Homo sapiens: one gene and its partners. The protein of the gene in region 2 purifies or fractionates together with the protein of the main gene of each other region. This does not show direct contact. Each region holds a gene or a part of one and is shown on either strand. Other genes may lie near its edges. The genes, in order: CENPB, ZNF169 and TWNK.

Region 1 (3,754 bases), on a different chromosome or scaffold from region 2:
AAATTTGCACTAAAACAGCAGTGAGTTACACTTTCTTCCTTTGGCTTCCAGAATGCCACAGTAGCCTGGTTTTTCTCCTGCTTCAGGGGCTCCTCCACTTCAAGAGTCTCTATTTGGTTCTTTCTTTCTTTCTTTCTTTTTTTTTGAGATGGAGTCTCACTCTTTTGCCCAGGCTGGAGTGCAGTGGCATGATCTTGGCTCCCTGCAACCTCTGCCTCCCAGGCTCAAGCGATTCTCCTGCCTCAGCCTCCCGAATAGCTGGGACTACAGGTGAGTGCCACCACACTTGGCTAATTTTTTGTATTTTTAGTAGAGACGGAGTTTCACTATATTGGCCAGGCTGGTCTTGAACTCCTGATCTCAAGTGGTCCCGCCTGCTTCGGCCTCCTAAAGTGCTGGGATTACAGACGTGAGCCACTGCACCTGGCCTCTTTCTTGAGCCCTTAACCTTGGAGGACCCAGGGCACTGTCCTTGGTCCTCTTTTCTTCTTTGTCTACACTCACCCACAGCTTCATCCAGCCCCAGGTCCTCAGCCTGTCCCCCTGGGTCACAGCCTTCCCCTCTGCCAATGCTGGAGTTCCCCTTAGTGCTGCCCTAAGAGATTTTTAAAAACACAGCTATACATTCATTGTTTTAAGAGCTTGGCATTTTAATGTTTTGCTGCAGGAGAGGGAGGCTTCAGGGATTCACACTTATGTATATACATGATGTTATTTCTGTAAGTGCAAACACATACATTTATGGCTATATGCATGGAAAAGCCCAGAAAGTGACACACCAAGATGTTATGAGTGTTTATCTATGGGTTGTGGGATTACTAGAACTTTAAAAATGTCATTAGCACCATCAAATAGATTTACAACTGTAATGCTGATTTTAAAAATAACTTAAGTGTGTAACAATAGGTTACATACGCTAGTGTTCATTCATAGCTGGAATGCTACACAATCATTAAAAAGCGTGTTGGCAATGATACTTACCGATATGGCAAAATTCTCACTACTTGATGCCAGGTAAAACAGCAGGAGATGCCAGATATACAGTCTATACAGTCTGATGCCAGTTTTATATAATAAATTTTTAAAAAGAAAACGACATGCATCTAGAGAAAAGACTGGAAGGAAATGTATCAAAATGTTACCTGTGCATCTCTCCAGGTGACGTGAAAAGCGTTTTTCAACTTCTTGAATTTTTCAGGTTCCGCAAAAAAAAAAGTGCGTTATTTTTACCTTAATTAAAAAAAAAAAAAACAAACAAAAACCCTGGTTCTTATTCTTTTTGAGCAGCAAGTCGCTGTCCGCCGGGCGCAGTAGCGATGCACCGCGTCCCCGCCCGCGTCGCTGCCGGGTCGCCGGAGGCCGCAGCACGGGCAGGTCCAGCAGGCCGCAGCGCCCCCCCGCGGTATGTCCCGGCGGCGGGAAGGGGGTGGGCGCGGAGGGCGGGGAGGAGGCGCCGGGCGTCCCCGCGCTTCCCGCGAGATCCCGCTCCGCCCGCTCCGCCCCGCTCGCCGCGCTCCCAGCTCCCCGCGCCGCGGCACTTCCTGCCTTCCGCGCCCGCGCCGCCCGCCCTCGTCTGCGCCCGTCGCCTGCCGCCCGCCGCCCGGCGACGCGCCCGCCGGCGTCCCCGGAGGTGCCCCCGGCCCGGCCGGGTCGTCGCCCCGCCGCCGCGCCCGCGAGCCGCTTTGTCTCGGGCGGGGCGCGCGGGAGAGGCCGCCAGGTGCCCCCCGCCACGGGCCCGGGCCCCCCGCCCCGGGGCGGCGGCGGCGGCGCCGGGCCCCGGGGCGGGGGGCGCGCCGGGATGGGCCCCAAGAGGCGACAGCTGACGTTCCGGGAGAAGTCACGGATCATCCAGGAGGTGGAGGAGAATCCGGACCTGCGCAAGGGCGAGATCGCGCGGCGCTTCAACATCCCGCCGTCCACGCTGAGCACGATCCTGAAGAACAAGCGCGCCATCCTGGCGTCGGAGCGCAAGTACGGGGTGGCCTCCACCTGCCGCAAGACCAACAAGCTGTCTCCCTACGACAAGCTCGAGGGCTTGCTCATCGCCTGGTTCCAGCAGATCCGCGCCGCCGGCCTGCCGGTCAAGGGCATCATCCTCAAGGAGAAGGCGCTGCGCATAGCCGAGGAGCTGGGCATGGACGACTTCACCGCCTCCAACGGCTGGCTGGACCGCTTCCGCCGGCGCCACGGCGTGGTGTCCTGCAGCGGCGTGGCCCGCGCCCGCGCGCGAAACGCTGCCCCCCGCACCCCGGCGGCGCCTGCCAGTCCGGCCGCGGTGCCCTCGGAGGGCAGTGGCGGGAGCACTACTGGTTGGCGCGCTCGGGAGGAGCAGCCGCCGTCGGTGGCCGAGGGCTACGCCTCGCAGGACGTGTTCAGCGCCACCGAGACCAGTCTATGGTACGACTTCCTGCCCGACCAGGCCGCGGGGCTGTGCGGAGGCGACGGACGGCCGCGTCAAGCCACCCAGCGCCTGAGCGTCCTGCTATGCGCCAATGCCGACGGCAGCGAGAAGCTGCCCCCGCTGGTGGCCGGCAAGTCGGCCAAGCCCCGCGCAGGCCAAGCCGGCCTGCCCTGCGACTACACCGCCAACTCCAAGGGTGGTGTCACCACCCAGGCCCTGGCCAAGTACTTGAAGGCCTTGGACACCCGAATGGCTGCAGAGTCTCGCCGGGTCCTGCTGTTGGCCGGCCGCTTGGCTGCCCAGTCCTTGGACACCTCGGGCCTGCGGCATGTGCAGCTGGCCTTCTTCCCTCCCGGCACCGTGCATCCGCTGGAGAGGGGAGTGGTCCAGCAGGTGAAGGGCCACTACCGCCAGGCCATGCTGCTCAAGGCCATGGCCGCGCTAGAGGGCCAGGATCCCTCAGGCCTGCAGCTGGGTCTCACGGAGGCCCTGCACTTTGTGGCTGCCGCCTGGCAGGCAGTGGAGCCTTCGGACATAGCCGCCTGCTTTCGTGAGGCTGGCTTTGGGGGTGGCCCTAATGCCACCATCACCACTTCCCTCAAGAGTGAGGGAGAGGAAGAGGAGGAGGAGGAGGAAGAAGAGGAGGAGGAAGAGGGTGAAGGAGAGGAAGAGGAGGAGGAAGGGGAGGAGGAGGAGGAGGAAGGGGGGGAAGGAGAGGAATTGGGGGAGGAAGAGGAGGTGGAGGAGGAGGGTGATGTTGATAGTGATGAAGAAGAGGAGGAAGATGAGGAGAGCTCCTCGGAGGGCTTGGAGGCTGAGGACTGGGCCCAGGGAGTAGTGGAGGCCGGTGGCAGCTTCGGGGCTTATGGTGCCCAGGAGGAAGCCCAGTGCCCTACTCTGCATTTCCTGGAAGGTGGGGAGGACTCTGATTCAGACAGTGAGGAAGAGGACGATGAGGAAGAGGATGATGAAGATGAAGACGACGATGATGATGAGGAGGATGGTGATGAGGTGCCTGTACCCAGCTTTGGGGAGGCCATGGCTTACTTTGCCATGGTCAAGAGGTACCTGACCTCCTTCCCCATTGATGACCGCGTGCAGAGCCACATCCTCCACTTGGAACACGATCTGGTTCATGTGACCAGGAAGAACCACGCCAGGCAGGCGGGAGTTCGAGGTCTTGGACATCAAAGCTGAGTCACTGGACCTAGCTGTGCCCCCAACCTAGATTGGCAGCACCACCCCAGGGCAGAGGACTCTCTGGGCACCCGCTGTGCATGGAGCCAGAGTGCAGAGCCCCAGATCCTTTAGTAATGCTTCCCCTGGTCCTGCAACAGGCCCGGTCACCTCGGC
Region 2 (3,654 bases):
CTAGGGAAGCATGGAGATCAGGAGTGGATGGGCTCCAAGGGTGAGTTGCCCAGATAGTATGTCAGGAGCCTACTGTTTTCCTGTCTGGGCTTGCGAAGCCATTTGTCCGGTACCACCAAGGGAAGCAAGAGGGCTCGCTCATACACCCCCTTTGCATTTTGGTTGAGATCAGGTTTTGAGTTGGTTTTGAGTCTGTTTTGCCTGAGTGCACTCCCCCTTGTGTTGTCCAAAATTTGTCTCCACTTCTTTGTGTATCTGTCTTATTCCTTTTGATACCATGTAAACTTGATAATGGGAGGTATTGGGTTCATTCCTGCTGAGAGGCCTCTGGGAAGGAAAAATTTTTTTTTTTTTAGGAGCTCAATGGTTGACAGTCGGCCTAAATAAAAGCTAACATCCAAGATGTGTATATATATGTGTGCATGTGTGTATGTTTGTATTTAAAAGGCCTTCATGTTTTTGTTTATTTCTTTCCTAAGACCTTGTCTTTTTGAGCAAAAGTTTTTTCTTCTCTGTTGACTGAATTCTGTTTTCTTCATTAATAGCTATTACAACAAAAGCTACTCTGGGGTTTTTAGGAAAACATATAATTTAGACACTTAGAAATGTCTTTGGAAATTTTTTTTTTTTTTTTTGAAATGGAGTCTCACTTTGTCACCCAGGCTGGAGTGCGGTGGTGTGATCTCGGCTCATTGTAACCCCTGCCTCCCGGTTCAAGCAATTCTCCTGCCTCAGCCACCTGAGTAGCTGGGATTACAGGCCCCACCACCCCGCCCAGCTAATTTTTGTATTTTTAGTAGAGATGGGGTTTCACCATGTTGGTCAGGGTGGTCTCGAACTCCTGACCTCATGATCCACCTGCCTCAGCCTCCCAAAGTGCTGGGATTACAGGCGTGAGACACTGTGCCAGGCCAACATTAATAGCACACTAATGTAAAGATGAAATTGGGCTTATTTGGTATAAAAATTATACAGAAAGCACTGTTAAATATGAAATCATGTTTGGCTTTCTTTGGGCTATATTTGTATAAATACATTGTTGGTATGTGTTCCAAAGTTATGGGAAACTCCTATAATTCTATTTTAGTGTATGTTATCAGTAATAATTATAATTGTTATGTTAAATTATTTTGTACCACAGAGTTAACAGATTTCCTTGTCAATTGTGTCTTTAACTATGGCTACCCTAAAACTTTTTGTCATCCATAAACAATTGTCTTGTTTCAGTCCTCTTTAGAAGGCAGTTTTATAGGCTAGACACGGTGGCTCATGCCTGTAATCCCAGCACTTTGGGAGGCCGAGGTGGGCGGATCACCTGAGGTCGGGCGTTCAAGACCAGCCTGACCAACATGGAGAAACCCCATCTCTACTAAAAAAAACAAAAAAAATTAGCTGGGTATGGTGGCACATGCCTGTAACCCCAGCTACTCAGGACGCTGAGGCAGGAGAATCGCTTGAACCCAGGAGGGGCAGGTTGCGGTGAGCTGAGATCACACCATTGCACTCCATCCTGGGCAACAAGAGCAAAACTCTGTCTCAAAAAAAAAAAAAAAAAAAAGAAGGCAGTTTTATAATCAGCTGTAAAGCTCTAACAGGTGCTTTTGAATGCAGGTTTCTGATAACTTTAGAGATTGTGACATCAGAATAGAGGAAAAACGTTCAGGACTCGTGAAGAGCTAAAATGTTCATTAATATCAAGCACAACAGGAATTAACTGCATGAACTGAACTAATAGACTGGAATGACCTTTTTGACATTTTTGCTTAAAATATTGCTAATCCTTTGTTTTGCTTTTCAGTGTCAAGGAAACTTTTCTTCTGAGCTATTAACAGCTTTTAACAATTAAGTGTATGCCCATGAACAAAATTTGGAGCATATTTGTTCCTCTCTACCTGGTTCCTCTAGAATTTGGAAACTATCTGTGAGTATTCTTAATTTATGGCAATACAGTTATTTGCATAAGTGCAATAAGAATCTGTTTTCTTTTGTAACAGGACACAATTGGAAAAACTGGTTGTTTTACCAAGGCTTTAACTGGAATGGTGTGCTCTCCTTTAAGGAATCAAAGTTCACTTATGAAGCCAAGAAAGCCTTTAGAAACTGGCCTCATATTTTGTGTACACAGTCCCTGTACAGGGTTTCTGATCTGTGGTAAGTAAAGAATGTCACTTTCTGACAGTCCATGAACCCCAGGTTACCTTAGAACCTCAAGAGGAGAGGTATTCACCCAACTGATAGGTACTTGATGATACAAATCCATGGCTGGGCGTGGCATTAAAAAGTCTTATCTCAGATTCCTTCTATGAAACAAAGTTCCATCAAAGCCAATTTAAAAAGCCTACATGTTAGCTGGGCGTGGTGGCGCTCGCCTGTAGTCCCAGCTACTCGGAAGGCTGAGGCAGGAGAATGGCGTGAACCCAGGAGGCGGAGGTTGCAGTGAGCCAAGATCGCGCCACTGCACTCCAGCCTGGTGACAGAGTGAGACTCTGTCTTAAAAAAAAAAAAAAGGCCTACACGAAAAATAATTATTCTTTCTGCACTGTATACAAATAATTAGGCCAAGTACAATGAAGCAAACCAGTTCTACCATGATTTATCTTTTAATAAAAATGGGAAACTGGAAAGAGAAAAATTATGTTTCAAAAACTACAGTACACCTGTTGTTAAATTCTAGTTTCACCTGATGTTTTTCAGTTTTTATTATTTTCTACAATTTGGATTAAATTCTAATTTTTCTGTCTACAGGTCTCCAAAATAATGTTTTCAATTTTTTCCTCCTTCTTTTCCTTTTTCCCTATTTTTCCTAATTTGAAACCACTGAAACCTAAGCTGTGCCTTCTTGAAGCCCTGTGAACTGAAGACTAGACAACTTAAACTTCAGAAGAAAACAGTGGCAACCTATTTATATGTGTTGCTGTTGCACACTACTATGTTTCAGCAGGCGCTGCCTCTATGCCCCCAAAACAGAGACTGCTACTGGGAACAAATTGAACTCTTTCACTCCAGCGCTGCGTTCGATGCTCCGTAACAACGACCCCATCTCAGCAGGAAGTAGCCAGAAAGATTATAATGCCCCATCTCCCTACAATTCTTGTGACAAATAAATATACAAGCATGATAGAAATCATGTGCAAATTGACAGTGGGGATTGTGGCAGGTCAGGTCTCACTAAGAACTGTTTCAGTACTGACTGAGTGGTTAAGTTAAATATTAAAAGTCAGTGCCCTTATACAAAGGCTAGGATGTAACAAAAGCCCATCAACAATTTTGCCTAGGCCTTTCCTGAGCCTTAAAGCATGACAAAATAACTAAGAATTTTTTTTTTTTTTTTTTTTGAGACAAAGTCTTTCTCTGTTGCCCAGGCTGGAGTGCAGTGGTGTGATCTTGTCTCACTGCAACCTCTGCCTCCCGGGTTCAGGCAATTCTACTGCCTCACCCTCCTGAGTAGCTGAGATTACAGGCATGTGCCACCATGCCCAGCCATTTTTTTGTAAATAACTAAGGAATTCTTAACAGGACCCATTTAGGATTAAACAAGTTTTATTGTGGGTCTGAAGAAACTCCCTAGGTCTCCACAAACAAGTTTACTGAGGATCTGAGGGAACTCCCCAAGCCTCCATGATTTAGCAGGAGATAAGATAAGGGTAATCACCC
Region 3 (2,335 bases), on a different chromosome or scaffold from region 2:
TGAGTGGCCCCAGCATCGTGGTCAGTAGTTCAAAGAGCTTTGGTCATGGGGGGAAGTACTTTTCCCTCTCCCATTCTTTCTCTTTTTTTTTTTCTTTTTTGAGACGGAGTCTCGCTCTGTTGCCCAGGCTGGAGTGCAGTGGCACAATCTTGGCTCACTGCAACCTCCGCCTCCCGGATTCAAGCGATTCTCCTGCCTCAGCCTCCCAAGAAGCTGGGACTATAGGTGCATGCCACCATGCCCAGCTAATTTTTTGTATTTTTAGTAGAGATGGGGTTTCACCGTGTTAGCCAGGATGGTCTTGATTTCCTGACATCGTGATCCACTCGACTCGGCCTCCCAAAGTTCTGGGATTACAGGCGTGAGCCATTGTACCCAGCCCCTCTCCCCATTCTTATCACTCCTCCCTGCCCTGTCAGCCCCCCTTTCTGCTTTGCTCATGTCCTCTTACTCCTGCTTTCCTCCTTCTGCCCCCTGTTCCCCAGGCAAGCCAGGAAGCAGACAATGTTCTGATCCTGCAGGACAGGAAGCTGGTAACCGGGCCAGGGAAACGGTATCTGCAGGTGTCCAAGAACCGCTTTGATGGAGATGTAGGTGTCTTCCCGCTTGAGTTCAACAAGAACTCCCTCACCTTCTCCATTCCACCAAAGAACAAGGCCCGGCTCAAGAAGATCAAGGATGACACTGGACCAGTGGCCAAAAAGCCCTCTTCTGGCAAAAAGGGGGCTACGACACAGAACTCTGAGATTTGCTCAGGCCAGGCCCCCACTCCCGACCAGCCAGACACCTCCAAGCGTTCAAAGTGAAGGCCGTGCAGAGCTGGTCACTGAAATGAGCCTGATAGGATAGGCTGGAGCATAAAACTCTGCAAGGGCTCCTCTATCCTGTGGTCCTGAGCTGTGTGCCCTTCTCAGTCTGAGGGGCCTAACCTAGAGCAGGTTTCCATAGTGAGAAAATTCAATGTAGCAGACTACTGAGAAACTACTGTGTTGCTCAGGCTTTGTTTGAGGTCCTGTATATACAGCACTGAAAAGAGAGATAAAGTCCCTGCCTGCATGCATTCTGGCGGAAGAGACAAGCAAGCAATGAACAAATTAGCAGAAAACCTAGTTTTAGTGAAAAATGCTGTAAAGAAAATAGAAATGCGATAGAGTGCTGGCAGGCTAGTGTAGATAAGTGGTCTGAAAAGGTGTCTCTGAGCCGAGGGCATGTGAGCTGGGGCCTAAACAACTAGAAGGAGAGAGCCACGTGAACATCCGGCGAAGGGGACCCAGGCAGAGAGAAAAGGAAATCCAAGCCCTGAGGTAGGAATGAGCAGGTCAGATTCAAGGCAGTGAGGTCAGGCCGCATGAACCTGGAGGGGAATCGGGGACTTCATGCGAAACTCCAGCCTAGGCTTTCAAAGTCAAAGGGTGATACAGTGGGTACCAAGCTCCTCTGCTCCCCACTTTGTAGAGCCTAGCATGAGGTGGCATGTACTAGAATTGGATCCTAGGTGCTTAGCCCTGCAATATCAGGGCCTCACTGGTGGGAGCTGCCTCGGGCTGGGTTGCTTGGTCATAGAGCCATAGAAGGAAGCTGTCAGCCCGGAGTGCCTGCCACCTAGACACTGATGCCATTGTGTGCTGCCTCAAGACTGCTGGAGTCAGGACATTTTATAGAGCCTTTTCCAGTTTTACTAAAAAATTTTTCCATTGCCTTTGTTTCTGTGCTTTTTCTTATTCATCCACCAGGTGTCTCCCCAGTCCGTAGCTGAATTTCCCTTTCGGGATTGGGAATGGACGGGTCCCCTCCCACTGCTTGCAGCCTTTGAGCGGTGGGCTTCCAAGGAAGCAGGGACATTAAAGGGCCTTCACACCCCACCTTCCATTTACATCTCTTCTTGGCCTAGGGAAGACAAGATGATCTGTCCTCATACCTAACTTCCCTGAGGATCTCGAGTGATTCCTGGCACAGGTACTCATCACTGGGCCACATGAGCCCAGTGCCCTGCCTGACTGGCCATTCCTCTGTGATGTGAGCCACTCACCTCTCAAGTGGACTTAGACTCAACATATTCTGTCCACCCCCATCCATCTCCCTCCTGTACCCTCTCCGTGTTTCTCATATGCTAATGCGTGCCAGAACTCCTGGGGACTTGTGAAAAATGCAGAAACTAGGCCCCATTCTCCCCCCATCCTCCACCACGTACATTTCTCATTCTGGATTTGAGGACGGGTACAGTAATCCTCATTTTTAACAAGCCGTGGAGGAGACTGTAAAATAGGTGACCCAGAGGGACTGTCAGAAGTATTCCTAAATGATGACACCTTCTCATCTCTCGTCCTCTGATATC

The links.
Region 1: the proteins of ZNF169 (region 2) and CENPB purify together in Homo sapiens (affinity purification with mass spectrometry; 2 studies listed by BioGRID and IntAct, with this or other methods). This does not show direct contact.
Region 3: the proteins of ZNF169 (region 2) and TWNK purify together in Homo sapiens (affinity purification with mass spectrometry; 2 studies listed by BioGRID and IntAct, with this or other methods). This does not show direct contact.

The regions. Positions count from the first base shown.
Region 1 is NC_000020.11:3,784,528-3,788,281, reverse strand, and holds the start of CENPB (major centromere autoantigen B), read left to right. Parts: upstream 1-1,541; 5' UTR 1,542-1,798; coding exon 1,799-3,598; 3' UTR 3,599-3,754. UniProt on the Homo sapiens protein: Interacts with centromeric heterochromatin in chromosomes and binds to a specific 17 bp subset of alphoid satellite DNA, called the CENP-B box.
Region 2 is NC_000009.12:94,265,767-94,269,420, reverse strand, and holds part of ZNF169 (zinc finger protein 169), read right to left. Parts: intron 1-3,654. UniProt on the Homo sapiens protein: May be involved in transcriptional regulation.
Region 3 is NC_000010.11:100,992,705-100,995,039, forward strand, and holds the end of TWNK (twinkle mtDNA helicase), read left to right. Parts: intron 1-485; coding exon 486-806; 3' UTR 807-1,699; downstream 1,700-2,335.